Regions from separate parts of the Homo sapiens genome. Here all the other regions are linked to region 1. The links come from fine-mapping of genetic effects on gene expression. A gene starts in region 1. Each other region holds a variant in brackets. All regions are shown on one strand. Distances are between the middles of the regions.

Region 1 (8,294 bases):
TAAAGTTGTTGACTGGGTGCAGTGGCTCACACCTGTAATCCCAGCACTTTGGGAGGCTGAGGTGGGCAAATCACTTGAGCCCAGGAGATTGAAACTGGCCTGGGCAACAAGGTGAGACCTGGTCTCTACAAAAAATACAACAAAATTAGCTGGGCATGGTGGTGTGTGCCTGTGATACCAGTTACTCGGGATGCTGAGGTGGGAGGATTGCTTGAGCCTGGGAAGTTGAAGCTGCATTGAGCTCTGATTGCACCATTGCACTCCAGTCTCGGTGACAGAGTGAGACCCTGTCTCAAAAATAAACGTATTTAGCTATTTATATTCTAGCAGAGACTTAGTTCGCTATAGCTACATTTTAAATCTATTTAAGTCTGATAAGATTCATAAGTATACCGTTTGAGCTTGGACAAATGGCTATCACCATCTACCTACCACTCCATCAAATAGAGATCACCTCCATTTCCCTAGAAAAGTTCCTTGGGCCCCAGTGCAGTCAGTTTCCTACACGCCTCCCCTGGCAACCACTAGTCTGAGGAATTGGTATTGCCTGTGGAAATACTGATCCTGTGATGGTCACAAGATTCTAAGTGGAGTTATTTTCTTTCAGTACATTGAAAATGACATCCCACTGTCTTCAGGTTTCCACTGTTGATGAAGTTAGCTTTTGATCTGTTATTCCTTGAAAGGTACATTTTTTTCCTGGATTGCTTTTGAGATGTTATCTTTGTCTTGTTTTTTGTAGTTTCACTATATAGTGTAGATTTCCTTATCCCAGTTAGCATTTGGACTTCTTGAATCCATGCTTTGATGTCTAACTATCTAGCACTGAAGATACAGCTTATTCAAATGATTTTTGTCCCATTTTCTCTTCTTTTGGGACTCCAAAAAAATACATCTGTGTGTGTATTAGATTTTTTCATATTCTCTTACTTTCTCTTGTCTTCATGCCTTATTCCAGAAAGCTTCTTCAGCCTCTTCTTCCAGGTTAGTAATTTTATCTTTAGAGGTTTTAAATTTTTGGTCTTTATATTGTAACCTCTGGGGATCTCCTGTTTTCCTTCAAATCTGTTATTTTAATAAATTTTAATTTTCTTTCCATTTTTAAACTTGGATTTTATCTCCTTCAACAGAAAAGCAATTATTTTATAATCTACTCCCAATAGCTGGAGACCAGTTGGTCTTTCTCTTGTCTGTGCTGGTGGTTTTAGGTCATGCTGTTTATTTATGTACCTGATTTTCTATATGCTGGACACAATATTTTAAAAATGCTTTGAGAAATATACTCTATGGTAGCAGCTTCCAGAGTGTTTGCTTACTTCTACCTGGAATTTTGAGTCACCAAAATACGGTATGATTTAACCCAATCTCAGAACTTGAGACTTTCTGGGTATTATGTGACATGAAGCCAGGCTGGAGTTCATGCAAGGACTGGTTTTCTACTAGTTCACTCTGCTTCCTAGGGCTAAAATGGGAGGCTTGGGGTTTAAATCCTGGCTCTAATGTGAGACCCTAGAAGGTACTTATCTTCACTGGGCTTCAGTTTCATCACATTCTTCTCATCTTACATACGGAGAAACTGATGCCCAGACAGGGGAAGTAATTCTTCCAACATCCTACAGTTAGTGAGCAGCAATTATAGAATAGAGCCTAGGCCTGTCAAGGGTACTTCTACTTGAGCTTTCAATTTTGCACCTTGTATTTAGGGATCTATATCCCCAAATAACTTGCTTCCCCTTACATGCACATGAAGACGATTCTGCAATCCCTATCATACTTGCCATACCCAGAAGGAAGAATCTGAATTAGGTGAGAGTACTGAGACACCAGAGGAGGCTGGTGTGTGGCAAGAAGAAGGAAGGCTGGAAGAGTTATAAGGGCTTGTAGGGCACTAGAAAAAGTGATATTAGAAGTATCCTTCTGTAAACAGTATAGCCATGTGCTGGCATCAAAAGTGAACTGCCAGCCTGTTCCCACTTCATTTCCCACATTCATTTCTCCTTCCCAACTTCTGTTCATGATCTGTCTTTCAGCTCTTGTCAAAAGGCTGCTAGCATCTACTGGGCTGATCCTGGGATACTGGTTCTAGCTGCTAGAGAAGGCCCCCGGGTGAATGGAAAGGTAGATGGTGGGAGGCTGACGAATACTGAAACCAATGGTATAGCCAAGGAGACTTGAGGAGAGGATTGGTATACCCCCGGTACCAGACAACTTAGGGCTGAGGAATAGGGGCATTGTTGCCTTTGTGGAATGGTGTCATTTACAATAGACTTTTCCCATAGAAAGATGAGTCTTGGCAGAAGTCCAGCTTCTAGGTTTACTCCTGGCCTTGCTGCATACTCACTTTGTTATCAGAGAACACATTTTTGGGACCATGCATGGTGGCTCCTGCCTACAATCCTAGCACTTAGGGAGGCTGAGGCGAGAGGATCACTTGAGCCCAGGAATTTGAGACCAACCTGGGCAACATGATGAAACCCCATCTCTACAAAAGATACACAAAAATTGGCTGGGTGTGGTGGAATGTGCCTGTAGTCCCAGCTACTCAGGAGGCTGAGGTGGAAGGAACGCTGGAGCCCAGGAGGCAGAGGTTGCAGTGAGCCATGATTGCACCAGTGCACTCCAGCCTGGGCGAGAGAGTGAGATTCTGTCTCAAAAACAAACAACCCCCCCCACAAAAAAACCAAAACATTTTTACCAGGAAAACGCATTACTTTCAGTTACCTGCCTTGGCCCCCATGTTTGCTATATAAATCTGCCCTGGGGGGTTCTCATTCAAACTACTTTAAACAAGTTTCCTCCTCCATTTGCCTACTAGGCCACACTGGCCTCCAGCTTCCCTGCCGCATCCTGGTCCCTATTTCCTATGTGCCTGGAGTCCCCGGCTGAGTGCTTGGTATATGGGGCAGACTAGTGGGACTTTGGTAACAGCAAGGACTTCCATGGCAAGAAGTCTAAGAGCCCCTAATTTAACTGAACTGGAATAACTAAAATTCTGGGACCATGGGCTGAGCTGGCTGATGTTACAGAGCTGTCCAAAGAGCTGTCCCATCTTTGACTTTGTTGTTAAGGTGACACAGGGCAAAGATACTCAATGTGTAATTCCAGTCCTGGGAAAAGGAAGAAGATGCCTGGTGACAATAGCTTCTTGTTCATTGGAGGGAGGTTACCACCCCGATCTTGGCTCTTTCCACTAGCACTCCGCAGGACCAACAGGGATGATAGGCACCACCTTTTGGAAGGCAAAACCAAAGGAATCTCACCTGGCCCTTGCAATGCTCTATGATAATCAAGTATTTGGAAAGATAGTGTGACTTACCTACAGAGTTGAGAGCCCCATTAAAATGAATCTCTTCTAGGACAGGGAATTTGGGCCAGGGCAAAGTTCTTGCTTGTGGAAGAGACGGTTTCTCTAGGCATAAACACTTATATTTGTTCAATTTCTTTCTCATCAGTATGTTCCTAACACTGAATAAAGTTTTTGCATTATGATTAAAGGTTGGGATCGTAAGTCAAGACTTGATACAGCTTTGTTCTGTGGCTTTCTCTGTCTATTGCTCCATCTTCCATGGCCAAAGTCTTCATTTATGGCTCATCTCTTCCCTGACTTGGCAACATCCTTGTGGTTATGCCTCTCCTACTCATTAACTATGTTAGTTGCCCATGTGCCAAGGTACTGTGCTAAGAATGTAATACTGAAGGCTGACCTGGGCAGACACTGAACAAGTAACAATATTAAATGTCACTAAGGTGAGGTATAGGTTGCAATGGGAACATCACAGGCAAACTGAACATGGTTTGAAGAAGTTGGACAGAGTGTTTGGTACTCTGAAGTACTGGTGCCCTAAATTTATAAAAGAAGCAACGAGGTTTTTTTTTGTGTTTGTGTGTGTGTAGGGGGATGTTACTTAGGGGGAAAAACTTGGAATTGTAGCATTTGGTGGAATGGGCATAGGTCTAGATTTTTAGAAAAAAGGGTCTTGATATCTTGGGATATAAGGATTGTCTTAAAGAAGTAGTGGCAGCTGTTGGCCTCAAGCTTTCCTACCTTCTGGGATCTTGCTATCTGATTTATTGATTCTTTGAGGCTTTAAAAGGTATTTTTTGGTCTCGTTCAGTATTTAACTTGTTTTCAAAAGGAAGGTTAATCCTAATCGTTGGAAGTTTGTTGCAGTAAGCCATAATCATGCCACTGCAATTCAGTCTGAGTGATAGAGCAAGACCCAGTCCCTCCAAAAAAAAACAAAAACAAAACAAAACAAAATTGCTAAGTATAGTCCCAGGAACTTGCTAGAAATGAGGATTCTCAGGTCTCACCCCAGACATACTGACTCAAAATTCAGGGGTGAGGTCTCACCATCTGTTTCCTACCACGCCCTCCAGGTGATTCTGATGGACTTCAAAGTTTGAGAGCCATGTACCTAGCCCATAGTTACAAGTGATGGAAGCCTAAGGCAGCTGTCACAGTGAGTAGGTGGAAGGCATTTGCAGGAAGCCAAGTGAGGATAGAGGAACTGAGGAATCTAAAGGCTTTGAGTATCTGGTATGGCCAACCTGGAGAAGAAAAGGCAAAAAGAAGGGCTGATGTTCTTCAACAGGGCTTGGCAAACCTTTTATGTAAAGGGCCAGACAGTTAATATTTTAGGCTTCGTGGACCACATGGTCTCTGTCACGTGGTCTCTGTCATGACTATTAAACTCTGCCATTGTAACACAAAAGCAGCCATAATCAAGACATAAATAAATGAATGGGGCTGTGTTCCAATAAAACTATCTACAAAAATAAGTGGCAGGCCAGATTTGGCCCTCAGGCATTAGTTTATTCTAGCAGAATGTTTTACTCAGTGGGTAGTGATGGTGATTGTTTTTGAGCAGTAGAAACCCTTTTTTCCTATTTAACCAAACAAAGCAGGAAGTGCTCAGGTTGAAGAACGGGGTGGAAAATCCAGAGCCTCCTTGTTCATATCCCCCTGCTCTTCCTCAGAACACATCCTAATGCCATTTAAATAGAGCACTCAGTGTCTAGGCTTGAGGCCATGTACTCATTGCCCTAAAGAGTAGGTAACTCTTCATGAACCAATCTGGTCATATAACCAAGGCATGGAAGTGAGAAGAACAGATCTGAGATCTGTTCTGTCTCCATCCATTCCTGGACCTGAGGGTCCAGGAGATCCTCCTTTGCTCCATTGTCAATGGTCTCTTTCTCCATAGGTGCCAGGCAGCCTTCAGAGGCCAGTAAAGATACCCGGAGTATGAGTCATCGGTCAGACACCCTTCCTGTGCCCTCTGGTCAGAGGAGAGGCCGGGTCCCCAGAGACCACAGCATCTATACCCAGCTGTTGGAGATAACGCTGCACTTGCAGCAGGCCATGACGGAGCACTTCGTGCAGCTGACGAGCAGACAGGGCCTGTCGCTGGAGGAAAGGAGGCACACTGAGGCCATCTGTGAGCATGAAGCCCTTCTGAGTCGCTTAATATGCCGGATGATCAACCTCCTACAGTCTGGGGCCGCGAGTGGCCTGGAGCTCCAAGTGCCTCTTCCTTCTGAGGACTCTAGGGGTGATGTCAGATATGGGCAGAGGGCCCAACTCTCTGGGCAGCCTGATCCAGTTCCCCAACTGAGTGATTGTGAAGCTGCCTTTGTCAACCGCGACCTATCCATCCGTGGGATTGACATCTCTGTCTTTTATCAGTCGAGCTTCCAGGACTACAATGCCTACCAAAAAGATAAATATCATAAGGACAAGAACACCTTGGTGAGAATTTGGGGTGGGGGGTGGGCAGCATCCTCACGGGCTCCAGTCACTTGGATTTACTGAGTCCTGGGCCAAGTGCTATATATGCTCTCATTCTTTATAGCCTTATGAAACGGGCACTCTTGTCATCTTGCAGATAAGGGAATAATTACAGAAATAAAGTGACATGCCCCAGAAAGTTAGAGAACTCCATCCACCCCCACATCCCTCCCTCTCCCTAATCCCAGCTCTTAATTATTAGGAGTTGGCCCCTGTGGTCACAGGGACAAATGAGCCTGCCGTTAAAGAACTTAGCGTAGTGATGAATGGAGTCAGCCACTGGGGCACAGGCATTAATAATCTTCCCAAGAACGTGAAAGGGATGCCCACTTCAGGTGGTCTGGGAAGAGGTCTTAAAGGCTGAATCAGCCAGCCATGTGGTGATGGCCATGGCCATGACCCTCCAGGCAGGAGGAACAGCACACGTGAAACCTTCAAGATGCGAAGGGCTAGGAGTGATTGGGAAAGGAGGTCCAATGGCCAGAGTAGGGACCACTGGTGCTGTGGCAGGAGGTGTGAACAGAGGTGGATGGGAGGTGTTAAGATGTTACCCTAAGAGGCTGGGCGTGGTGGCTCATGCCTGTAATCCCAGCACTTTGGGAGGCCAAGGTTGGTGGATCGCTCAAGTCCAGGAATTCGAGACCAGCCAGGGCAACATGGTGAAACCTCATCTCTACAAAAAATACAAAAACTAGCCAGGCGTGGTGGCACACACCTATAGTCCCAACTATCTGGGAAGCTAAGGTGGGAGGATCACTTGACCCCGGCAGCTGGAGGTTGCAGTGAGCTGAGATCGCGCCACTGCACTCCAGCCTGGGTGACAGAGTGGGACCCTGTCTCAAAAAAAAAAAAAAAAAAAAAAAAAAGGAATGTTACCCTAAGGGCGATGGGGAACTGATGAAAGGCTTCCAGGAAAGGGGGTCCTTAGCAGCTCTCCAGCCAGAGGGTGGAGGGTGACATTAGCTATACCTTCCCCTTCTGTTCCTATCTCTGTTCTCCTCTAATAACTTAGAAGGCCCTAATGTGTAAGGAGAAGTAGCAGAGGTAGGTGCCAGATGGGGCCTTGGGGATTAAGGGTCCAGGCTCAGGCGTCAGGTAGGTAGAGTTCTACTTTTCACCCAAGGTCACATGGCTAGTAGGCTATTCAACTTTTCTAAACTTCACTCTTTAAACTGGATTATATAGAACCTTCTTTTCAGGAATTAAGACAACTCACAAGAAGCACTTGGTCTAGTATCTGGTACATAATAAGAACTCAATGACTGGTCGATAGGACATAACTTATTTATGTGGCTCTAATGGGGAAATTTGCAAGCTGTACTATTTTGGGTTCATGGAAAGCTTTCCTAACGTGTAAAGTTGTCAAATTTGGATTGAATTGCCTCATAGGCAGTGAGATCTCCATTTGAACTAATGTTTCAAGGGATCTATGTAGGGTGGAGCAAGAGGACTGACCTGATCTTGGATTCCTTCCATCTCCAGGGTTTCATTAACCTTGGCACCAGTGAGAACAAGCTCTGCATGGATCTGATGACTGAAAGAGTAAGGATGTTCTGGGCTGTGTTGGGACCCACCCCTTCAAGGCTTAGTCCCCCTAGCGTGCTCCTGAGCTATGGTAGATACAGGGGTGAGACATAGGAGCCTGGGAAGAGGAGTGAAGAAATAGCTTCTAGAATAGCACATTTAACCTCCTGGCTTTGCTGACTGTCCAGAGATATTCTCTGATTAGGTATATGGTGGGAAAGTTGCTATGGGAACCTCTGGGTCAAATACTTCCCAGTGAGGTATCTACTTGTGTAATTTATGACAAGATGGTAGCCTCCATTCATTAAGGAGCATGCAGTGTATATACCCATTCCCTTTCTAGGAGGTCATGTATGTGGAGGGCAAACACTCATGTACAAACTAGGAGTAGAATGAGGCCTCTTGAACTTCCCTGGCCTACCTGTCTTCATGTTCTATTTGTCAACAGTTGCAAGAAAGTGACATGAACTGCATTGAGGACACCTTGCTTCAGTACCCTGATTGGAGAGGGCAGCCATTGTAAGTGACCTTCAGATTTAGAGTCTCTTGGTCCCACAGGCAGCTGTCCTTATCCAGAAGGAGGATTCAAGGCACCAAATTCCTGGTTGGTTACCTCCCTATCTCTTTGGGTAATAACTTCTAGAAAATGCCTAGAGCAAAACTTCATCAGGAGGCAGCCTGGTATAGTAGGAATAGTTATTCTGGTATAGTAGGAATAATTCAAAAGGCCTGAGTTCTTTTTTTTTTTTTTTTTTTGAGATGGAGTCTCACTCTGTCACCCAGACTGGAGTGCAGTGGTGCTATCTCAGCTCACTGCAGGCTCTGCCCCCTGGGTTCAGGCCATTCTCCTGCCTCAGCCTCCCGAGTAGCTGGGACTACAGGTGCCCGCCACCACGCCCAGCTAATTTTTTGTATTTTTAGTAGAGACGGGGTTTCACCATGTTTGCCAGCTTGGTCTTGATCTCCTGACCTTGTGATC
Region 2 (8,294 bases), 170 kb before region 1:
GATAAAACCATCAAGAATGCTTAATAACTCAGGGGCTGCTGGATTACACTGCTACCAACTCTTCTTTTTTGAAGTCACTGAAAGACACCAGCAATGAGGTCCCAAGAAATGGTTCATGTCATTTTAGGAACAGTCCTATCTTTCCTAATTTGGCTTTCATTCTGGCATGTATTTGCAGAGAGGTGGCACGGTGGCATCATGTGGCATTGTGGTTCAGTCTTCTTTGTAAAATGGGTCTAATAATAATAATGCCTGTGTAACTGGGTTCTTAAAATTAGATCAGTGGGCCGGGCGCGGTGGCTCACGCCTGTAATCCCAGCACTTTGGGAGGCCGAGGCGAGTGGATCATGAGGTCAGGAGATCGAGACCATCCTGGCTAACAAGGTGAAACCCCGTCTCTACTAAAAATACAAAAAATTAGCCGGGCGCGGTGGCGGGCGCCTGTAGTCCCAGCTACTCGGGAGGCTGAGGCAGGAGAATGGCGTGAACCCGGGAAGCGGAGCTTGCAGTGAGCCGAGATTGCGCCACTGCAGTCCGCAGTCCGGCCTGGGCGACAGAGCGAGACTCCGTCTCAAAAAAAAAAAAAAAAAAAAAAAAAAAAAAAAAAAAATTAGATCAGTGTAGGCATGTAAGTGATTGGAACAGCACTTGGCATGTAAGAAGTGCTCATGAAATGTTAACTAATGTTATTATTTGCTATTATTTAGAAATAAGAATGTGTAAATGTTGCCTACTCCTTTTAGGGATAATGTAACTATCAGAATATCTTCAAGCTGTCTGAATGCTACATAATTTAAAACCTTGACATAATTCCCTATACTCCATAGTGACTTTGCTAATGACTATAACCTCTAGTGATCTCTTGTTCCCCAAATTTTTGTCTGCCCTCCATAATTTCACATCCAATTACACTGTTTTTTAATTGTATCTCACACAGTTTACCCTGTGGTTCACTGGATGGAGATTTTACCTCCTGCAGCATCTACAATCGTGCTGGGCATTGAACAGAAGGTGTTCCTGTCTGGAGTCTGGGGAAATGTCCTCTACCCTTCAATGTTGTTGAAAGTTGGCAGAGAGCTGAAAGCCTCATAGCAAACATGCTGCAGGGTTGGCAGATTCCCTTCCCACCCTCCTTGCTCAAGCTGGGAGCTGCTAAACCTTTGGCAGTGAGACATAGGCTGGGAATTTCTCTATGCAACACCTTCACTGAGAGCTATTAGCATGATGTGCCATTATTTTCCTTGGGTTGGATTTTCTCAGGAATACAGCAGCAGGCACTCCACAAGCTGCACATGATTGAAACAGGGAACGCTTGGCAAGAGAGTGGTGTGAAAATCGGCAACTGAAAATAGGCTACAGGGTGTAGCTCACTCAGAATCACTGTTAAGAGCTACCAGCACTTAAAGCATCTATCAGCTTTGCCATCCAGGGTATGAGATAACTGTTGAGTGGGAAGTGATCACCTCTGGAAAACAGACATAGGGAAAGGATACAGAATATGGTGCAGGTACCTGCAAAATGGAACAGAGCATTGTTAAAAATGCAAATTACTGCCAGGTGCGGGTGGCTCACGCCTGTAATCCTAACATTTTGGGAGGCTGAGGCGGGCAGATCACCTGAGGTCAGGAGTTCAAGACACAGTGAAACCCTGTCTCTACTAAAGTACAAAAAATTAGCCAGGTGTGGCAGCCAGGAGGCTGAGGCAGGAGAATTGCTTGAACCCAGGAGGCGGAGGTTGCAGTGAGCCAAGACCATGCCACTGCACTCCAGCCTGGGCGACGAAGCGAGACTATGTTTCAAAAAAAAAAAAAAAAATGCACATTGCTGGGCCCTGCCCCAGACCTACTAACTGAGAATCCTGATGGGCTCCCAGAATGTGCATTTTTACAGCATCCCCTAGTGATTCTCATGCAGTTACCCTTCCAACCACATGCTGAGAAATGCTGGCTTCAAAGTAGCAAAGCAACCAGCAACATCTACTTTAGGAAGGCAGTCTTGGATGAGGACAAACTAGGAGGAGCAAGCAATACGTAAGTGATGGGCTAGGAGAGCAAGGACCCAACTCAGAGGCAAATCAGTGATGTACAGAGGCCAACCCGGGGCCCAGGCAGTTAGCCTTTGCTTTCAACTCCTGATGCCACATTCCCACTGCAACCATCAGGACTCAATCAGGAGACAGAAGCTACATAATCATCTGGACAGGAAAGAAATAGGTCGGGCGCGGTGGCTCACGCCTATAATCCTAGCACCATGAGAGGCCGAGGCGGGTGGATCACTTGAGGTCAGGAATTCAAGACCAGCCTGGCCAACATAGCAAAATCCTGTCTCTACTAAAAATAAAAGAAAAAATTAGCTGGGCGTGGTGGTGCACATCTGTAATCCCAGCTACTCGGAGGGCTGAGGCAGGAGAATCACTTGAACCCAAGTGATGGAGGTTGCAGTGAGCTGAGATTGCACCACCACACTCCAGCCTGCCAGCCTGGGTAAAAGAGCGAGACTCTGTTGAAAAGAAAAGAAGAACAGAAAAGAAAAGAAGAAAAGAAAGAAAGAATTATTAACCATAATAGAGGGTTACTGACAAAGGGAAAAAGAGAACTCTAAGAACACAAGCGTAAGCCAAAAAGTATCCGAAACAGGTCTCCATCAATTTAGAGGTTTATTTTTGCCAAGGTTAAGAACACATCTGGAAGAAAAGAACATGGAATAACAGAAAGTCTGTGGTCTGTGCCTTTCTCCAAAGATGATTTTGAGGGCTTTAATAGTTAAAGGGGAAAAGTGTGCTGGAGGGGAAAGAGAGAGGGTCTGGTGATCCACGATACTAGAGAAAAGGAGCAGGTAGGGGAATAGTCAATTATGTATTCATCTCACACCCAGTAAATTGGCATTTTACATTAGATAGGGTGAACATAGAGGAGCTACCCATGCAGATATTTAACCTTGATCGGTAGCTCTCTGTTGGGGAACAAAAGGAAAGGCAGCTTCTTGCATGACTCAGCTTTGAGCTTAATTTTTCCTTTTGGCAGAGTGAATTAGGGTCCCGAGATTTTATTTTCCTTTCACGCTGGTGTAACAGATGCAGGGAGCAGCCTCTACCTCTAGTTTGAGGCAGAACAGCGAGGAAGAAACAACTCTGAAACAGCTCCCATCTGCCAGGGTTAAGGATCCAAACCTCGCTGGAGGAGACATGGTGGTGTTTTGCTGGATGGCGAAGTTTGCTGGCGAGCTGCACCAAGAGAACTAACTGTGGTACTGGGAAGTTGCCAAGGGGAGGCACCAAGCTCTGCTGGCCATGGTGCATGGCAGAGCTGGCTGAAAAGATGTGTTCATGTCTTAGGCCTGCCATAACAAATTACCACAAATGGGGTGGCTTAAAGGAACGAAAATCCATCCTCTCACAGTTCTGGAGACCTGAAGTCCCAAATCAAGGTATTGGCAGGAATGTGCACTCTACAGGCTCTGAGGGAGGATCCTTCCCCACCTTTTCCAGCTTCTGGTGGCTCCAGACACTCCTTGGCTTGTGGCAACATCCCTCCAAGCTCTGCTTCCACCTTCACATGGCGTCCTTGCCTGTCTTTCTCTGTCCCTCTGTCTCCAAATCTCCCTCTCCTTATAAGGACAGCAGTCATTGGATTCAGACCTGCCCTAATTCACTCTGCCCTCATCTTAACTTGATTGCATCTGGAAAGACCCTACTTCCAAATAAGGTCATGTTCACAGGTTTTGAGTGGACATAAATTTGAGGGTGGATATTATTCAACCTAGTACAGAGGAACACACAGGAACCATGGAAAAGAGCCTCTTCTGGTCAGGAGTTTGAGACCAGCCTGGCCAATAAGGTGAAACCCCGTCTCTACTAAAAATACAAAAATTAGCCGGGTGTGGTGGTGCACGCCTGTAGTCCCAGCTACTCGGGAGGCTGAGGCAGAAGAATCACTTGAATCCGAGAGGTGGAGGTTGCAGTGAGCAGAAATTGCATCACTGCACTGCAGCCTGAGTGACAGCGAGACTCTGTCAGAAAGAGAGAGAGAGAGAGAGAATAGAAGAAAAAGAGCCTCTTCCTCTTTTATAAGGGCTAATTAAAAAAATTTTTTAAAGAGCCCCTTCCCCCTTCAGGGTCTCTTCAGGACTATCGACTAATGAAGCTTACTATTGAATCAGCTAGCAAGGGAAAAATGTTCCAGTATAACAAGCAGGCAATAAAGGATGGATTTGGAGCTGAGAGTTAATAAGGATTGATGATTCAGAGTCCACTCCTTCAGCTACTCAGTTTCCATATGCACCACCCTTCTACACACATTTCAACTTCTGTAGGATCAACACAACATCTGTTTCCACCTACCAAGATACAGCTATCCTTCACAGAAGTGAAGGCGTTCTCATTGTTTCCCCCCAAATGAACTTCCAACAGTCACCATATCTACTACTGACCGTATTAAATAGTCTTCAAATTCAATCATAATCCTACTGAATGTTCTGCTACATAGAAACTAAATTGTAAATGTAACCTCCAACTACATAAATATAAAATAATGGAGAGAGAAGAACATGATTTTCATGTACAAAACACATACATATAGCTAGCAAAGAGAAAACATACAAAGCTCATACAGTCTTTGTTTCTGTTATTGGTTATAACATCACAGGTGGCTTCTTCCATATTTCCCTTGCCCTTAGCCAGAACCTCAGTTCACTGACTTCTTTACCTGACGGTACAACACAAATCTTCATTCTTAATCCAAGTTATTCATCATTCTGCTGTTTTGTTGTTGCTGCTTTTGTAGTTTTCTTTATGTTTTTTTTTTACTGGACACAAAGTACCAAGAGGCACCTGAGAAAATCCTTTTGGTTCCAGACATAGTCCTTGTGTAAGCATTCACACCCTGAGGAAGCAGACCTTCAAACCAGCACTGCTCAGTGTTGCTGGGACAGGAAGCAAGTGGGTTAATAATTATATTACTGAAGGGGGTCACTCTCATTTTCACCCTCATTCCCAGCGTCATGTATTCTGGTTAAGGGAGAAAGAGCACCATATTCTGATCTCTGATTCAAAGTATAAACTGCATCCAATAATACAGAACTCTACCCTTTCAGGGGCTG[T/C]CTCCTGATTGGGGCCATAACTAAGTCTTCAGTAAGCCACTCCATCTTTCAATTAGCCAAACTGTTTCCAATGGGTAAGAAGTTAAGCCCATTGATGTACTTCCTTTACTGTGAAATGAGTTCCTTGATCAGGGAATACCATGAAGGGGAATAAGACATTTGGTGGGTTCACAGATGGTGGTGCTGGCCAAAGCAGTACATACAAGGAAGATAAATAAACCCATATCCAGAATATGAATATATTCCAGTGAAGATGAATCTCCACCCTCTCTATGATGGAAAAGGTCCAATGTAATCAAACTGCTACAAGTGGCTGGACGGTCGCCTGACAAATGGTGACATATGGAGGGCTCAGTATTGGTCTTGGCTATTTGTAGGTTAGGTATGCAGCAGTAGCATTAGCCAGGTCAGCTTTGAGAAAAGGAAGTCCAAATTGTTGAGCCCATGCATATCCTCCATCCCTGCCACCATGACTACTCTGTTCATGGGCCTATTGGCCCATGCATGACATTACAGGTATGAGCCACCACACCTAGCTCACACATGTCTTACTAAAGCATCTAAAACACTTTCTACCTTCTGTTCACCATATCCAATCAGCACAATGTCGTCATTATTGTTGTCTAGAGTGATGTTTTGTAGGATGTCAGGATGAGAGGTGGACCTATAGTATGACAGCAGAAGAACTGAGGTATCTCTGAGGCAAGACTATGAGAGTATACTGTTGGCCATGCCAAGTAAATGCAGAATGTTCCTTTTTTTTTTTTTGAGACAGGGTCTCACTCTGTCGCCCAGGCTGGAATGCAGTGGCATGATCTCGGCTCACTGCAACCTCTGCCTCCCTAGTTCAAGCAATTCTCCTGCCTCAGCCTCCCGAGTAGCTGGGACTACAGGTGTGCACCACCACACCTGGCTAATTTTTTGTATTTTTTTTTTTTTGAGATGGAATCTCGCTCTGTCACCCAGGCTGGAGTGCAGTGGCACAATCTTGGCTCACTGCAAGCTCTGCCTCCCGGGTTCACGCCATTCTCCTGCCTCAGCCTCCCAAGTAGCTGGGACTACAGGCATCCACCACCACGCCTGGCTAATTTTTTGTATTTTTAGTAGAGATGGGGTTTCACCGTGTTAGCCAGGCTGGTCTTGAACTCCTGACCTCAGGCGATGTGCCTGCCTTGGCCTCCCAAAGTGCTGGGATTACAGGCCTGAGCCACCGCACCCAGCCAAGGCAGAAAGTTTCTTGTAAATTAATATAGAGAAAAAGGCATTAGCCAGGTCAAGAGCTGCCTACCAAAGGCAAAAGGTTATGTTAATTGCCGCAGTAAAGATAGCACATGTGGGACAGCAGCTGCATTGGAGTCATGGAGTAACTACCTGATTAAATTTACAACAGCCGACAATCACTCTTCAAGATCCGTTTGACTTCTGCACAGGCCAACAGTAAATTAAATGAGAATGAGAATGTGATAGAATTATCATCTGATTCTTTCAAGTCTTTGATTGTGGCATTAATCTTTACAATTCCTCCAGGAATGTGGTATTGCTAGTATTTACTATCTTGGTATGGAGGGGAAGTTCCTGGAGTTTCCAGGTAGCCTTTTCTACCAACTGGCCTTCACTTTGTGGGTCAGAGAGTCAATTTGGGGATTCTGCTAGTTGCCAAATATAACTAATCCAACTATAGATGGTCCCTGACTTATGATGGTTCCATTGATTTTTTGACTTGACGATAGTGGAAGAGTGGTACACATTTAGTAGAAACTGTACTTCAGTACAGTATTCAATAAATTACATGATATATCAACACTTTATTATAAAACAGGCTTTGCATTAGATTATTTTGCCCAGCTTAGGCTAATGTGAGTGTTCTGAGTATGTTTAGGGCAGGCTAAGCTAAACTGTGATGTTCCATAAGTTGGGTGTAGCAAATGCATTTTGACCTATGATATTTTCAACTTACAATGGGTTTATCAGGATAGAACCCCATCATAAGTCAAGGGAGCATCCATATACATTCAGGAACTGGGGAAGTAGCCACTGGATGGATCTGTGGATGACTGGGTCCATTGTGAGTCAAACTTGAACTAAGATTCCATCTATCACTTGAACATCATTAAGCCCTCACTTTCATTCGTGGGCCATAGAGGTGTTCTAGGTTCCCAGGAATTAGTTAAGAGCCATTGCCCAGTAAACCCTAAAATACCTGGGTACTTACTTTTCCCCAGTGTGTAACCATTTGAGTAAATGGCTGCATTCACTTGGATGAAGACTTGGGCCGGGCGCGGTGGCTCATGCCTGTAATCTCAGCACTTTGGGAGGCCGAGGTGGGTGGATCACAAGGTCAGATCGAGACCATCCTGGCTAACATGGTGAAATCCCATCTCTACTAAAAATACAAAAAATTAGCCGAGCGTGGTGGCAGGCAGCTACTCGGGAGGCTGAGGCAGGAGAATGGCATGAATCCAGGAGGCGGAGCTGGTAGTGAGCCGAGACCACGCCACTGCTCTCAGCTTGGGTGATAGAGCGAGACTCTGTCTCAAAAAAAAGACTTGGAGGAAAATTTACAGTATATACTTGTGACAATGGTGCAGGGTCCTTCCTCCAAGAGATGTGGCTTCCCTGTCAATCAAGAGGTTTGGGGTCGTGATATGACTTGTCTGGAAACTAGGTGAGAGATATGTCTATCCAGTGTGGCCAGGTAAGGTTTTTGGCTACTAGACATAGACTTTTTTTCTGTTAGATAGATCAAACAATTCTCTAGTAGGCTGCCCATCTGTTTCATTCCTAGGGACACCATGGCCACTACCAAAGATCCTTATAGACCAACATATTCTGATTACTGGTATGTCCTGGCTTCTGTATTGGATCAATGTCCTTACCTTTAATAATTAAGTGCTGCCACTTGGCCTCATCATCTCCAGTAAAACCAGGGGACCCAACTCAATGGTGGCATCTTCCATGATCACACCTGGCCTGCAAAGGAGAGCAACCACAGAGCTTTCCAAGGATGCAAGTGCTCCCTTGTCTAAAGTATTTCTCAATGCTTTAGAAAAAGGAGCATCTTCTGGATCTTGTTGTAGGATATAGTTTTTGTGTTTGTGTCTATTGCACGTGGGTCAGGGTCACATTTGATAAATTCAGTCCAACATTTCTACCCTTCTCAGTCTTTGGGTTCCCGCCTCTACATCGTGCCTTGGCAT
Region 3 (8,294 bases), 130 kb before region 1:
CAGAGAGTGTTCACAGCAGAAGAAACACAAACAGCAAACAGAATGAAAAAAAAAAAGTTGAACTTGGGCTGGGTGTGGTGGCTCACACCTGTAATCCCAGCACTTTGGGAGGCCAAGGCAGGTGGATCACTTGAGCCCAGGAGTTCAAGACCAGCCTGGCCAACATGGTGAAACCCTATCTCTACTAAAAATAAAAAAAAATTAGCCAGGCATGGTGGCAGGCACCTGTAATCCCAGCTACTCGGGAGGCTGAGGCACAAGAATCGCTTGAACCCAGGAGGTGGAGGTTGCAGTGAGCCGAGATCACACCACTGCACTCCAGCCTGGGTGACAGAGTGAGACTCTGTCTCAAAAAAAGAAAAAAAAAAAAAAAAGAACTTGGCTTGTAATCCAAGATCTCTAAGTTTGAATGAGTTGTCATTTCTCCCCTAATTGTTTTTCGTTACTGTCAGTTGATAATGTTCAGCCAGAAGATAGGTACTGTCATGTTTTCCTGGTGAGATTATAGATTGCTGCAGCCTTCTCAAGAAAGCAGTTTGGTAATATAAATCAAGTGCCTTAAAGTTCATACACTTGGCTCCAGTAATTCCATTTTTTAAGAATATATCCTAGAAATATATGCAGAAATGTTTTGCCCAAAAATCTGCTTGCAGCAGCTTTTTATTTATTTTCCCTCTTTTTAAAAAAAAATACTGGTGTATGAAAATCAATCTCCAACCATGTGCTCCTTACTGCTCCATCCTTAGTACTAGCATAATGCCTGATATATACAGGTGGTCAAAAGGTATTTGTGAGTTTAAAGGAAGGATATGTTCATACAAAGGAATATTCTATAACCATATTTTTGAAATGTATATTTAAAGATATAGAAAAATGCTCAATAAAATATTAAAAATGGAGTACACACGATTGTATATCTGGAAGACTCTGTGTGTATGTTGTATAAACTCTGGATGATAGGATTACAGGCGATTTTCTACATTTTCTGTGTACTCTTCCTCAGTCATTCAGTACATATTTATTCATATGTGTGATAGGCACTGAGAATGTTTCTTAACAGGAAGACCACATAAACTTTCCCTCATGGAGTTTATAAGAGCAGAGGTTGAATAAATAATTACAAGTGCATCATTTACTTTAGTAAACTTATGTTACTTTTTATATTCTAGAAGGAAAACCTGTATGATGATTTTAAAGCATTGATGATTGTTTGTAATTTCTAAGACATTCTTTTAGGACAAGAAAGGGATGATTTTAAGAAAACTCCAAATCTCATACAGTATGAATTACCTTTCCAATGGAAAGAAAAATGTTTAGGTTTCCCATCTGTTGGATGGTTAATAATGACATAACAGTAAATACATCCAGATTTTTTCACCCCAAATAGCATTTTCTTAAAGGAAACTGAATAGGATATGTTGGTGAGGTGGAGGTAAGAGTTGTGAGAAGCTTTAGAAAAGCATAATTAAGCCTTCAAATGAACTGGCTGCGGTTGGAGGAATGAGAATGTTGATCAGCATTAATATAAAAATACATGTTTTTCGCTTTTTCCATGTACTCGTAGGGTTTCAAGTATTTGGAAAACCAAGAACATCAATAACAAAACCCACCCTGTAGCTTGAGTGTGACCCTAAAAGCTGCTTTTAACCAGGATGAGTGATGGAAAATTTTATCCTTAGCCCTGGTTTTGGGGGGTGTGTTTTGTTTTGTTTTGAAGAAAACCCTGAGTAAATCAAAAGGGCTACAGAGATGTGTTTGGGTAACTTAACCACGCTTAATGACTAGGAAGGCACTCTTCTAAACAGTCTGACCTGTGTTTCCACTGTTGCTTATCCATTTATCAACTGGAGCCTTTATGCACAGCCATGTGGGTTCCTCTGGCCTTTTATCTGACTCCTAAGTGGAAACAGTCTCCATGCATCTTGCTTCAGTTGAAGGGCATCTTGCTTCAGTTGAAGGGTGGCTCTATGGTCTGTTGCCACTCTGGCCTCGAGGGAAGGATGCATTTGTGAGCTCTGTGTTGCATTAGTAGGATCCCTTGCCCTCTTTCCTGTCTGTCTCCTTCTGCAAATTAGGAATGCATCTTCTAAGTCAAAGATCTTAGAAGGAATAAATAACAAGCAGCAAAGAATGATATCACTTCTCACAGAGGGTACACTGTGTAAGGGTGTCTCCTTTGTGGACTGATTCGAGTGGCTCCCTCCCAAACGAAGGCTCACCCTTGTCTGCTTTTTGGTATGGCTAATGGTTATGTTGAATGTAATGTGTTCAAAACCAACCTGAGACTTTCTCTCATTTGAAAAGTTCAGATCTTAGGAACAGTATGTGAAATGTGATCATTGAACATCACTTTCCATCAGTGCTGATACATTTCGGAATTCTCTTTCACTTGTGAGGTGGATTCCTGCTTCATGTTTCCAGGTGGAACTATAGTGTTTACCTATTCTCTTCCACTGATCTAGCACCTCCTTCTCCCCAACAGTGTTTTTAATGTTCTAGGAGATCTTCATCTCAGAATTGCCTTCATGTTGTGGTTAAGTGTCTTTCCTTTCTACTTTATTTTATTCTCCTTAGTGTCTGTACTTGATTTGTAGATTAAGCCCATGTTGCACTCTCTGATTATGTAGAGGGTAGCAGAAATTCTTCTGCTTCTAGCTGTGTTGAACCTTGATCTGATAGCTGACTATACAGCCTAAATTAAGGAGCCTTGGACTGTCTAATCTCATGGTCAGTGCACTCCCTCCGGATATCTTTTCCCCAGTAGGACCATGTGTCTCCTCTGTCTGGATTTTTTTTTTAAATCAGAGCAGCGTTTTGCTTTTCTGAGATGGAGCTGGGCTGCAGTGAGGGCAGGGTCACCTTCCCACTGCCCTCTGGTTGTCTGAGGGGTCAAAGGTAAATGTTTTGGTGCCCACTTATTACTGGAAGAGAAAAGGTGGCAGACACAATTAAAATCAATCACTGAAACCAAAGTTATTTTAAACATTGCTTCTATCTTCTGTCTATAAAAATTATGACTATGCTTGACAAAGTTACTGCCAAAAGTTGGGGCCTGGAACTTAGACTGTTTATGCAAGTTCATGATTGTTTTGATTTTGATTTTCCTAGGGAAAATCTTTGTAAACAGTTAAGTTCTCAGAAGCACCCATACAGTAATAAACATAAACACAGTTTGCACTGAAATCAATCCTGCAGTAACCCAAATGTAACCCTTTCTACCGGAAGTGAAGCAGATGAATGAATAGACCCATCAGTTCTGCCCAGAATGGAGGTGAAGAAATCAGGAAGCTCAGATCTGTCCCAGTCTCAGCACTTGACATGCTCTTTGTTGCTGTGAGCACAGAAGTTGTTTAATGCTCCTGGTTTTCAGCTGTGGAGGAGCCACACTACCAGTTAATTGCTTTGCAGCTTATGCTCTGAAGACTCCTGAGAATATTGGACATAAATTGCTTTTGAGCTCTCTGTGTAAATACAAAGCATTTGTATCCTAAGTGTACAGGAGTCGTGATCCATCCTCAAAGATGTAAACAGCCAATCTCAGTTTGACAGCACTGTTTTGGTCAAGCCAGAGCTCCCTTTGAGAAAATCTTGCTGTTGTCTGTTCTGGAAAGAGGCAGGAATATGTCTCCAAAACTCCATAGTAGCCATGAGAAGAATTGAGACTATAGGTGCCAATTAGTAAATTAGCATACATTGTGAAAAGGTGAAGGAAGTCATCGCATCAAATCTTGGTTAAAAGGACATTTTTCCCACACTGAGTATGTCAAAATGTAGAGCACAACATCAGTCAGATGTAAAGAATTCTTGTACAGGTGACTTTTATTTCCTTCTTAGGCCAGAATGGGCTTTTCTGCATTTTGGATTATGATGATGACACTAATAGCTAGCACTTACTGCATGCCAATCTTCAAGGGATTTACACATATTCTATCAATGGAGGCTCACCATAGCCCTAGGTGGCAGTCACTGTCATCCTCCCCATTTTACAAATGAGTAAGTCAGGGTACAGAGAGATGAGGTAACTTGCCAACAGTCAAGCAGCTGCCAAATGACAGAGCTATATATGGATTCCCACAGTCTGGCTGAGCAGAGGTTTCCATTTTTTTTTGACCTCTGTCAGGTTCTGTTGCATCTTGATTACACAGGCAAAACATTTATTACAACAAATGCTGTTTTCTAGGAAGAGAATGGAGACTACACATATGTGGAAAGAGTGAAGATACCCTTGGATCATGGGACCTTGTTAATCATGGAAGGAGCGACACAAGCTGACTGGCAGGTGAGGATCTGCAAGTAATATGAATCTGCTTTCATGTGGAGGCAGTTTCCTGACTCTGAGGACTATTTCTAAGTAGACATGGTGAAAAGCAAGCTGCTTTTACAACGAGCAAGAGGGAATGAGCTGACATTCTTTCCAAGGAGTTTTGCTACTACTGACAATCCAGGTGGACACTAGTGTGTCCGGTAGAACTTTCTGTGATGATGAAAGTGTTCAGTATCTGTGCTGCCTATTGTAGTAGTCACTAGCCACATATGACTGACTTCTTAAAATGTGGCTTGCATGCTATAAAGAACTGAGTTTTTAATTTAATTTTAATTAACTTAAATTTAAATAGCTTCAGGGTAGCTAGTGACTATCTTATTGGAATACACAGCTCTGCAGCTAGGCCATGCCATTTTTAGGCCAGATCATTTCTAAGGTGCACATGTTAATGTCAAAACACTTACCATAAGAATGGAATCTCATGCCTCTCTTTGGTCTCATCCATTTATATGTTTTATGAGATTTGGGAAATGGCAGGTGTCTGAGAGGAACAGCAACAATTAGAAAAGATGAAAATATCTCACTTCAGAGGTGCTGGCATAGCACAGTGGGGCTGGGGATGGAAATTTGTTTCAAAGAAGGGACCTTTCTCCACAAGACTTCAAAGAGCTTACTACTCATTTAAGGGGGATGAGATGGAAATATTTCTGCATTCTCATGAATAAGTTTTAAGTCGCTTTGAACTAAAAGTGTGTATGTGTGTATTTATGTCAGAGTTA[T/C]GTGTATTTCCATTTAGCATCGAGTGCCCAAAGAATACCACTCTAGAGAACCGAGAGTGAACCTGACCTTTCGGACAGTCTATCCAGACCCTCGAGGGGCACCCTGGTGACGTCAGAGCTTTGAGAGAGAAGCTTCACTGAAACGGAGCAAACCTTCCACTGAGAAGCCACTTCAAGAGGCTGGTGCTGCTAGATCTCATGATGTGGCTGTTGGGAAGATGGTGGGGTTTGTTTGCCAGCTTGGAGTCCTATTAAATGAAAGCCAGCAACTCATGTTGGTAATAGGTCTACTGTGGGAACAGTTATCCCTAACCACAGCTCAAAATCGCTATCATCTTTAGGCAAATTAAAATCTATGTGGCAGTGCTCATGGATGATTTTGTTCTAAGCAGTTTTCCTCCTGCCCTCCCCCGCCCCCCACACGCCCCGCCTTCATTTGAAGAAATATCAATGGACTTGTGCCTCTGGGGAAAAGAAAATCTCACGTGTTTGTTCCTTGTGACTTCAGTGAAGTGGAGATATAAATATGCGTCAGGGACTCTGGAGCCTTCCGTAGGCAGACAGCTGCTGAAACCCAAACAGAGGTGGTTTCATCTTGGCTTGCATACTATTGTAATGGAAAGCTACATATTCAGGGAACACTGTAACTGAGTCTTCCTGCAACACACTCAAGACAGGTTACAGGCCTCCAAATAAAGAGTGGTGGCAGTATGCTCTCGTCTAGCCACCTTCAAGTAGTCACCTGTAATACAAGAGAAAACTGTCCCCTTAAAGGGAGGAATCACTGAATGATGTCACGGGAAGTAGCAGGCTGAAATTGAGGCTGAAGAGCAGCAGAAGGCCTGCTCATGACAGCTGTTCCACATAGATTATTTTCCCCTCGGGAATCACTTGAGTCATCTAGACCCAAGTCAGATAGAAGTGGGAGCAGCCCTGCAGGGAATGCACTCAATTGCCTAATAGTTCTCGTCACCTTGTGTTTCAGTAGCCCTATGACTAACGCTCTCTTCTGACTCAATGTTTTCTTACATACAAGGTCCCAAGGTACAAGGGTTAGTCTGTGATGTCACTGAGGTTCCCAAAACAAAACAGAGTGGCTGCCCATTGTTGCATCATAAAACCACGTGTCTTCTTGACCTCTTGACTCAGGAGCCGTGTACCAGATTCATTCCAAACCAAGATACAGAAAACCTGAGAGAAAGGAAATGAATTTAAATGGATGAAAATAGGGCGGGAGAGTTAGAGTTTCTCTGTCTGCCAGTGGGGGAAAGGTACAGTGCCTTCTTGCTTTTTATCCTGTTTCCATTCCAGGCTGTAAGATTGATGCTGTCCATGATCATAGGAAAATGCCAAAGGCTGGGCATGCTCTGACTCGGCACTCAGATGGAGCACCATGCCTGGCCAGGCTGTTCTCTGACAAGCTCTCTGGCTCCTGGCATTGTAGTCCCCCTGCCCTTTTAAAAAACAAAAAACAAACAAACAAAAAATGAGCACGGCTTGTTTCTCTAAGAAATATGAAATACTTTCTAAAATTTGAGCACCACACCAAGCTTTCCTGTGAGGGAGGTTCAAATCACCATAGGAATAAAATAAAGCCTCTTTTCAATGCTTAGCTGTTCTCCTATTAATGCAAATAATACCTGGCCAGGTGATACAGCCAGCTTTGGTGATCAGTTTGATGCATGACACTAGGAAATTTATCTTCCATTCCTTACTAATGAAAGAACTGGCAGATGGTTCCAAGTCTTCCAGCGTCCCTCTTTCTTAATGGAGGGTCATGATCTCCCCGTGTGGCAGCTGTGCATTTGATCTCTTCACTTGTCACACCCATGTCTTCCAGGGAAACATTTCTACTCTACAGCAGATGGAGTGGGCCACCACCTGGGTTTCTTGGTCTGAGAGCAGCAAATCTTCAGTTTTGTTTTTCTTGCTGTCACTCCAGATACCACATGCCAGAACTGCCCTTTTCTTTACCATTAAGATAATGTCCCTTCTGAAATGGCAAGTAGGTACTTGCCATAGAGTAAAACTACAGGGTGTAGGCATGGACAGGAATTCCAGACCATGGCAAAGGGCAGTGTGCCTCAGTGACTGCAGCAGCCTGTTGCTTTGTTTTGCTGGTGCTAGATCTGAACTAGGAATTAGAGGTGAAGCTGTTTTTGCTTACATCGCGTGTAAAGCTGAGGAAGCAAATATAACAGCGGTAGCATGAAGAAAAACAGGTTTCGGTTTTGTTTTTGCTGCCCTTCTTCTGAGCTTCAGCAGGCACTGTCCTAGGAGCTTTTATACATAATCCCTTATCCTTCCCACAGCGCTGCAAGAGAGAGGTCCTATTCCCATTGTAGAGGCTAGGAAACTGATCTCCAAGACGTTAGGTAAGTTAACAGGGCTTGTAGTGGCAGAACCAGATTGCAGACTGCAGGCTAGTTTCTCGGCCTGTTTGGTTTCCCTTTGCCATGCTGAATGTAGGCGAAATGGTCTGCTGAGCACTCCCGGGAGCCTGAGCCTCAGGGCTGGCTCCTGTGGAGCTGGTCACAGCTGACCACAGGCCACCTGTTTGTTCCCTGACTTTCCTGTTCATCAGGGCAGGCATCTGCATCTCATCTTTCCTTAATCAGCATCAGCATCCTCTAGCCAGAAACTGCTGGTGACTGGACTAGCAGTTGCCCATTTCATTGGGGAAGCTCCTTTTGAGGGGACAGAATCCAACTTCTGGTGAGTTAGACAAATTCTCAGCCAACTTTCCTTGATTTTCTGGCAAGTGTTTCCTGACCATATCCACCTTCAGAGATATGAAACTTTTAGAGACAGATAAGTTTTCCCCGGTGGTCCTTTCTCACCTCATTCTTACCTGTGAATACACTTGGGGACCCTGAATGACACCCAAACTCATAGCAGGCTTTTTCACAATACTTACCAACACCATTACTCCAGTCAGCAGCCCAAAGAAACATCAGGCTCCACACTAAAAATGTCTTCTTTATAACAGGCAACTTGCTTCAAACATGGGTTGGAACACACACTTAGCACCAGATTGCATCCCCAGTGTTGAAATCAGGATCCACATTGATCCATCATTAACCCACTAGCTCGGGTGGCATTGACAATTCCTGATAAGTTTGAGTCACAGCTAATAAACCTGCCCTTTCCTTGTGGCACCCACTCTCTGCCTCTGTGGCTGATGTGATCCTGCCCTAGTGCGTGGCAGGTCTGTCTGGACACAGTCACTATAGAGCCGTCTCCTGAATTGT

Alleles and levels. Positions count from the first base shown, and alleles are read on the strand shown. Sizes are in standard deviations (SD) of each study's normalised expression. Not every link is listed here.
In carriers of allele C in region 3, the expression in cerebellum of the gene that starts at base 5,193 in region 1 tends to be higher than with T alone (large effect, 2.2 SD a copy in GTEx).

Evidence for each region. PIP is the estimated chance that this variant, and not a neighbour inherited with it, causes the effect.
Region 2: its variant is fine-mapped to the expression of ACCSL in whole blood (INTERVAL, PIP 0.91).
Region 3: its variant is fine-mapped to the expression of ACCSL in cerebellum (GTEx, PIP above 0.99).

Annotation. Positions count from the first base shown.
Region 1 is chr11:44,042,789-44,051,082 of GRCh38, forward strand. ACCSL (1-aminocyclopropane-1-carboxylate synthase homolog (inactive) like) reads left to right here and starts at 5,193. Exons shown (of 14, transcript NM_001031854.2): 1 at 5,193-5,752; 2 at 7,274-7,333; 3 at 7,764-7,834. The coding sequence starts at 5,249.
Region 2 is chr11:43,870,010-43,878,303 of GRCh38, forward strand. It overlaps LOC105376644 (a long non-coding RNA gene), which reads right to left. Exons shown (of 3, transcript XR_001748200.2): 2 at 7,974-8,067; 3 at 4,395-4,920. Among named protein-coding and RNA genes, the nearest start is that of ALKBH3, 6.7 kb to the right of the region's middle. The variant T/C (reference allele first, on the strand shown) is at 5,098.
Region 3 is chr11:43,914,858-43,923,151 of GRCh38, forward strand. ALKBH3 (alkB homolog 3, alpha-ketoglutarate dependent dioxygenase) reads left to right here. Exons shown (of 10, transcript NM_139178.4): 9 at 4,181-4,279; 10 at 5,061-5,417. The coding sequence ends at 5,153. ALKBH3-AS1 (ALKBH3 antisense RNA 1) reads right to left here and starts at 6,087. Exons shown (of 6, transcript NR_038907.1): 1 at 6,017-6,087; 2 at 5,529-5,607; 3 at 4,729-4,805; 4 at 1,812-2,064. It also overlaps a transcript of ACCSL not described here. RefSeq lists an enhancer at 5,369-6,568. The variant T/C (reference allele first, on the strand shown) is at 5,044.